Homo sapiens: one gene and its partner. The protein of the gene in region 2 purifies or fractionates together with the protein of the main gene of each other region. This does not show direct contact. Each region holds a gene or a part of one and is shown on either strand. Other genes may lie near its edges. The genes, in order: OTUD5 and OTUD7A.

What was found.
Region 1: the proteins of OTUD7A (region 2) and OTUD5 purify together in Homo sapiens (affinity purification with mass spectrometry; one large-scale study listed by BioGRID and IntAct). This does not show direct contact.

The regions. Positions count from the first base shown.
Region 1 is NC_000023.11:48,950,824-48,954,632, forward strand, and holds part of OTUD5 (OTU domain-containing protein 5), read right to left. Parts: intron 1-3,809. UniProt on the Homo sapiens protein: Deubiquitinating enzyme that functions as a negative regulator of the innate immune system. Has peptidase activity towards 'Lys-48'- and 'Lys-63'-linked polyubiquitin chains. Can also cleave 'Lys-11'-linked ubiquitin chains (in vitro).
Region 2 is NC_000015.10:31,524,674-31,528,482, forward strand, and holds part of OTUD7A (OTU domain-containing protein 7A), read right to left. Parts: intron 2,636-3,809; coding exon 2,508-2,635; intron 1,789-2,507; coding exon 1,676-1,788; intron 507-1,675; exon of another isoform or gene 427-506; intron 1-426. UniProt on the Homo sapiens protein: Deubiquitinase, which cleaves 'Lys-11'-linked polyubiquitin chains. Might be required for PA28-20S proteasome assembly.

The DNA of each region.
Region 1 (3,809 bases), on a different chromosome or scaffold from region 2:
AGTGCTGGGATTACAGGGGTGAGCCACCGCACCCGGCCAACTTCTGTTGTTTTAAACCACCCAGTCTGTGGTAACATTTGTCACAACAGCCACAGGAAACTAACACACCCCCCTTGGTAGCACTCCTTGGTGTCTGTTCCCTAGTGCCTCACAGGTGTGAGACAATATGGCATGGATCCCGCTCTGCAAGGTCCACCTGCCTACCATCCTCCAGGGTGGGAGGTTAGAATTAAGGCAGCAGGGGCCTGGAATCTCCCTTCTCACCCTGGGAAACTACTGACCCTGCCTATGGATGGATGAGCTGCCACTGAAGTGGGGGTGGGGTGGGGGGGCAAAAGATGGCAGCAGCAGTGGCAGTTCATGGACAGATGTCTTCCCAGAGCCTATGGTCAAAAGGTGTTTAGCATTCTGTGACTCACAGCTCTGTCCCAGCAGCCCTGGTGCCAAGACCACCCCCTCCAGCAAAGCACCCAGGAACACTAGCCTGGCTCCATGGACAAAACACAGGGGGCCAGGCGTGGTGGCTCACGCCTGTAATCCCAGCACTTTGGGAGGCCGAGGTGGGCGGATCACGAAGTCAGGAGATCGAGATCATCCTGGCTAACACAGTGAATCCCTGTCTCTACTAAAAATACAAAAATATTAGCCAGACGAGGTGGCAGGCACCTGTAGTTCCAGCTACTCGGGAGGCTGAGGCAGGAGAATGGTGTGAACCTGGGAGGTGGAGGTTGCAGTGAGCCAAGATCGCGCCACTACACTCCAGCCTGGGGGACAGAGTGAGACTCCATCTCAAAAAAAAACACACACAGGCAACCCATCCAACGAGGAACATAGACACACTACTCTCTAAGGACCAACACAAGCCCTCCAGGGCAGAAGGGGAGAAGAGCAAGGCCCCAACATTTGGCTAGGCCACTGAGGGCAGGGGGATTAAAAACCTCTAAGATTGGCAGGGTGCGGTGACTCACACCTGTAATCCCAGCACTTTGGGAGGCCAAGGCAGGCAGATCACCTGAGGTCAGGAGTTCAGGAGACCAGCTTTGCCAACATGGTGAAACCCCATCTCTACTAAATATACAAAAATTAGCCGGGTGTGGTGGCAGATGCCTGTAGCCCCAGCTACTTGGGAGGCTGAGGCAGGAGAATCACTTGAACCCGGAAGCCGGAGGTTGCAGCGACCTGAGATTGCGCCACTGCACTCCAGCCTGGGCAGCAGAGCAAGACTCCACCTTAAAAAAAAAACAAAAACAAAAACAAAAACCAAAAAACAAAAAAACCCAAGGTCCTGTTATTCAGTAATAGAAAGGAATGAAGCACTGATGTATGCTACAACATGGATAAGCCTTGAACATATTATGCTAAGTGAAAAAAGCCAAGTAACAAACAACTGCATATTCTATTATTCCATTTACATGAAACATCCAGAACAGACAAATCAATCAAGCCAGAAAGTAGATTAGTGGTTGCCAGAGGCTGGAAAGGGATGAGGAAATTGGGGGATCATAGCTAAAGAGTGCTGGATTTCTCTTTAAGGTGATGAAAATGTTCTAAAATGGACTGTAGTGATGTGATGGACGCACAAATCTGTGAATATACTAAAAGCCACTGAACTGTACACTTCAAAGAGGTGAATAGTATGGTACATGAATTACATCTCATTAAAGTTGTTAAAAGAAACACACCCAAGGGCTCAGCACCAGCCAAGGACGCTGAACACTGCTTGAAATGTCCTAGCACAATCCCCAAAGGCCAAGGGGTCCCACTTAAAACTTTCATGAAGGGTGAGGGGAGTGGGAGCAGGGAGGAGACTATAACTTGCTTCAGAGCAATGAGTCCAACCTCCCTCCTCAACACTACCCATTTCATGGAGGGAGAAACCAAGAACCAGAAAAGAGAACTGCCTGAAGACCACAGAAAAGCTTACTGCAGAAACAGGACTCAAATCCACGTTGCCTGGGCAGAGACCCCTTCCTGCTTCCCCACCAGCTAGCTACCCAATTCCAGTTGGGGTAAGAAGAGCCCAAGAAATCAGCAGGTTCCTAGATGCCAAATGAAGGGCCTTTGCTATCAAAGATAGGTTACTAGGAGTGGACAAAGGCTCCTAGGAAGAACCAAGATGACCCTGGGGCAAACTGCCCATTCTGGGCAAGAGGAAGAACCGGCCAAGGTCCAAGGTGTGCAAGGTCAGACACACCTGGGCATGGACAAACTTTTGCAAAATGGGCAGCTGAGGGGGCAAGTAGTTTGCCTAAAGCTATAAAGCAGGTAAGGAGGAGATGCTGAGGTCTGGAGGTGATGAGAGAATTGAGGGATGATGGCTCAAAGCTTGCCTTGCTCCAAAGCCCAAACTCCACACACAACTCTACCTCTCTACACCACTATCCAACAGGCCTCCTGACAGGAAATCCCATCGAGCTTGTTCATTACAACATGGCTGCCCACAAAAAATGGCTGTTCATCAACCCTGAGCCTCACACAAAACAGGCTGCTTGTCCTGCCCACCAAGCTTGGATGGCTGAGAGGGAACAGAGGAGCCAGGAAGAGAGGGGAGAAACCCAGTTCCTCCTCAAAAGACATCCACCATTCTTTGCCACCTCCAGGTCCAGAGAACTTTGGACTGAGTTCCCTAAAATCCCAAAGCTAAACAACACCTCACCAGCATTTTGCCTGGCCAGTGAGGAAACTGAGGCCCAGAGAGCATAGGTAGAACCTACCCTGGTTCATCCAGCAAAGCCTTGAAAGACCCAGAGTTGGAACCCAGGCACCAACTACCGTGCCACACCCAGCTTTTTCCACCACCTCAGTTCACATGCCCCTTCTCAAAGAGCTCTGTGGGGTCTCCAAACTCAGGATGCTTACAGGCCAACCTTTTCATAGAGCAGACTCTCAGCAAGGCAGCCATGCCTGGGAACCCCTGACATCACCACCCACCCAGCACCTGGACCCCAGAGTGCCAAAAAGACTCCTAAAGGAAGTAGGGATACAAGAGAATCAGGACAAAGAGGAAGCCCAAGTAGTCAGAACCCCAGAATCGCCATCTAGACTCCCCCTCAACGACGCCTCTCTTCCCAAGGGATCCAACTGACCTCCAGGCTACAACCACCCCTAGTGACAGTTTAGGACCAAGACTGGGGTGGCAGGAGGAATCTTCCCTCTTCTCATCCCCAAAAGCTCTCAAGTTGGACCAGGTGAGGCAGGGAGAAGAGGATCACCTTCTTTGTCCTAAGAAGTGTGGGGACAGAAAGCCTCTCCTGTCATTGGGAAGGGCAGGTTTCATGAACCCACAAAACTTGATTTTCATATTCTTTTTTTTTTATTAGTAAAGATGAGGTCTCGCTATGTTGCCAAGCAGGTCTTGAACTCCAGGGCTCAAGTGATCCTCCCGCCTCAGCCTCCCGAGTAGCTGGGACTACAGGCATGCGCCACTATGCCCGGCTTACTCTTATGTTCTTATGGGGACAAGTATAAGGGAGGGACTGCAAGGGGCATAAGGAAGTGTTTTTGAGTTACCATGGCAGCATAGGATGTTCTTTCTCTCTGTCCCTGGGACCAGGGATGTATCGCAAGGGAGGGGAGTAAGGAGGTGTTTTTGAATTATCATGGCTGCATAGGATGTTTTTCCTCTGTCCCTAGGACCAGTGATGTATGGCTCCCTGCTTCTAGAGGAGGAAAGAAACTACCCAACCAGAGAGAGAAGAAATAACTGGTCCTGACCCTTGAGTACAAATGGCTTATCGTGCCAGAATTAATGATGGGAGGAAGGGACCAAGAACAAGGAGCTCAAGACAAGGCTTGGGGCCCCTGTGAAG
Region 2 (3,809 bases):
CCGGGTTCTTCCTTCTCTTTTGTGATGTGGCAGCCAGAACTATGGCTCCCAGGGGCAGGGGACCAGGCTATCCTACATAAATGGGACAATGTCTGGGCCATTTTGGATATTCCTAAAGGGACCTAATCCTTTTGTTAGATTAAGGTTGATCACTCAGACTCTGTGGGAGATAGGGACAGACACCAAGTGGCCCCTGTGTCCCCATTAGCATCTGAATCCCTCGGGCCCCAGGGAGCAGGCAGCAGGGTACCAGACTGTGGCCTTAGGAGTCAGATGGGCTGACTAGCCATGAGACCTTGGGCGAAGCTCCTCCTGGATGGGGGTACTCAGGAGATGTGTATGTGATGGTCACCTGTGATTGATTTTCACCCACTATCAAAGTCATCATTGCTGCTGTCTTTCCCCACTCCTCCCTGTCCCTGGCAGAGACACCTGGCCTGGATCCAGTCTGCCAGCACCTATCAGGCGTCCTCCCTGTGGCAGGAGGGAGAGAGGCAACTGTGAAAACGATGTCGAGGAACACTTAAGACCCATCACAGGCAGGACTCGGGAGGCGTGCAGAGGAAGAGAGCAGTTTTCCACAGTCGACTGAGTCTTCAGAATGCTTGTCCTCAAATGTCCTGCCAAGATAGACTGTTGGTATGGACATAACATAGCCTTAAAACACAGTGACAAGACAGCCCTGGAGGAAGGGTGTGCCAGCGTATGTGGGTTTCTAATGATTTCATCTTCAAACATGGTCTTGGACGCCACTGCTGCAGCTGCAGCTCTGTGGGAGCCTCTTTTCCAGCCGGGGCCTCCAGGGAGAGCTGGCCCATGAGGCACTAGGCCCTGCCTTGGTGGGTGGGTGAGGACCCAGTTGCCCGCTGCAGGGCCCATGAGCCTGAGGGCAGCCTGGAGCTGCATGCAATCCTCCTTCCATGGGTCTCCCTGGTGTTACTGCTCACACTTTCTCATGTTTGGCTGAGACCTTCTCTAGGAGCAACACCTTTGCTTTCAGGTTCCAGAGAATATGAACTGAAGAATAAGCCGCGGCCAAGGCTCTATGGCTGCCCCACTGGTCTGGCCACGGTCTTCATTCCATACTAGAACATCCAAGGTGTTTCTGTAGGAACAAGCTATTCCTAAACATGCACAGATGTGAAGTCTTTTTGCTGGGAACACATATAATATCCATGGAGCCCATCTGGGAAACACCAGGCTAGCTTAATGAGCTTCTGCTTTCAGGGCAACTTCTTGAAGCCACAAATTAATTAGTTGGGGGAGAAAACCCAAACTTCAGAGCCAGGTTCGTGCGATGGCAATGTGTGGGAATGCTCACCATCACGTGTGACCTCCAGAGGCCTGCTGTGCCCTGAAGGCGCACACCCCAACTGTTGTGCACAATAAAGTTCAAGGAAAGTGGCCTGGAGGCAGCTCATGTGAGCTCACCTCTGCCTGCATAGTGCATGTGGGGGCTGCATACCCTTCCACTAGCACCTGGCGGGGCCAGCCATCACCCACGGTCCTCCCGTGCGTCCTTGTCTTGAAGCTAATGCTGGAAAGCTGGAATCTTTCTGTCTTCCACAGCACAAGAGTCCCACATTCCCCCCCGTGCCATCCCCCCATGCTGTGTGTAGCCCTGGGTGGCCTGGAGCTGGAGGTGACTTCTGGGGAGAGCAGGGGCAGCACTTACCCCCCGCCCGTGCCGCCATTCTTGCTGAAGTGTGTGCGCGGCTCGCTGGAGGCCAGCTTCAGCAGCTCCGTCCACTCCCGCTCCCACTCCTCCTCTGTGTACACCAGCCCTGACTGGCAGAGGGGAGCCGGCTCAGAAGGGGGGTGGGCCACAGCTGCGCTGCCCTCCTCTCCTCACCCTCCCAATCTGGACCAGCCTCACCGGGACCCAGGCCAGGCACATCTGTAGGTAGCTACCAACTATACCAACTGCACCCTCTTGGCCACCTTTGCTATGCACAATATATTTTCAGAAGCCCCAAGCTCTAATTCCAGAGCTGCTGGGAATCTGCCCACCAACAAGGGTCATTCTCAGGGGCTGGGGATGACCGAGCATTAACCTGTGCCTGCACCTAACTGGGGCTGGCCGTTCAGATTCTTCTAGGAGAGCAAGGTCCTCATGTTTACCATGGTTGGGGACAATCGGGAATCCCTTTGGACTGAGCTCACACACAGGGGCTGGGGCCATGGGCTGCACCTGACAGCAGGCAGTCATATATATAATTCATCATCCAAGCCAGGATGCTTTTGGGAATGAAGGTAGGCAGCTTTCATGATTATGCCTTAAGGAAGCACAAGTGGACGCATAGTTGCTGTCTGCCGGGACTCTGCTATTTTAACAGGCTCCTCCTCTGTGGGCTTAAAAGCAGGAGACTTTCCTGATCCCAGGGGCTGTTTCTGCCTTCCCCTCATAAGACTGTCTGGGGCCTGGAGGCCATGCTGTGGACTCGACCACGGCCCGAGGCTGCATCTGGCCTGGGTCCCGGGCTCTGGCCATGCCAGTGGATACCAACCTCCTTATTCTGCTGCGTCTGCTGCCACCTCCACCTCCGCTTCAGGGCTTCCCTCTCAGCTCCCGTCCTCATCATGGTATAGAGAGCTTTCCGTAACACCAGGTCCCGGTCGTGAAACCCCCACATTCCTGGAGCCAGGAGGCCAGGGAGAACAGAGGAGAGAAAGGACATGAGAAAAGACAAGCCAGAGGTGATGCAAACTACCACGACCCACTGGGAGAGCCTCCTGTCTGCACGCAGAACAGCCTCCTTACTCAGCGGTTCTGTTAATTCCCCTCCAGCCTTCTTCCTGAGGCTTCCCATTAAGGCAACTAGGTGAATGAAGCAGCACATCCTGTTCTTAGCAAAACAATAGTGGGTGAAAATCAAGTGCTTTTCCTCTCTGGTGCCCTTGGCAACCCATTCTCAATGTTGCTGGTTTGCTTTGAGGACCTAATGGTCATTATTCAAGTCTTACATTTGGGTGGGGGACTGACTAGGGGACAGGGACAGGCTGTCCAGTGTCCTTATGGAGGGCTCCAGGTGAGGGAGGCCATTAGCATCCTGGCTTCTCCAGGGTCTGCCATTTCCCTCCTCTCCAGCCCTGAGGCATCTCAGCTTCCTGAGAAGCAGAGCGTCAGTGACACCACTGCACACACCTGGCCCAGGAGAGAGCGCCTGCTTCCTAGTGAGAGGGTCTCACCCTGTGCCAGGTGCTGAGAGGATATAGAGAGAAACCAGCCATCTCTGAGAATGTGCTCTGGGCAGCTTAGATGTGATCAAGAACCCCAACTCATGGGAGAAGTGCTCAAGAGAAGGGCAGCTCTGGCTACAAGGGAAAACACAGGGGAATCCATCCATCCATCCGTCCATCCAGCCATCCACCCACCCACGCACCCACTCACTCATTCTAGGTGCTGGGAATATATGTGGCAGTGGCCGGGACACATGAAGTTCCTAAAATCTCATGGAGCACATGTTGTGGGGAAGTGGGAAGTGAGGATAGCCACGAGGCTGGCACAGAGTGTACGATGTTGAGGGTGGCAGCCCCACGAGGAGAGGTGAGGCAGGCAGATCTGCTGTGGCGTGAATGGAGACATAGGAGCAAAGGCTCAAATGGGTGGAGGAAGGAGCCAAGTTGCTGTCCCAGCACAGGGAAAGGCCAGGGACAGACCCAGAGGGGGCAGTACTTGAGAAAAGGCAAGAGGGAAAGGTGGCTAAAGTGGGATCGAGGAGAGAGGGAGAGTGAAAAGGGGGCTCTCGAGGGAACTGTGAGCCTCTGGAGAGTCTACAGAAGGAGAGTAATGTGAACTGATGTTTTCA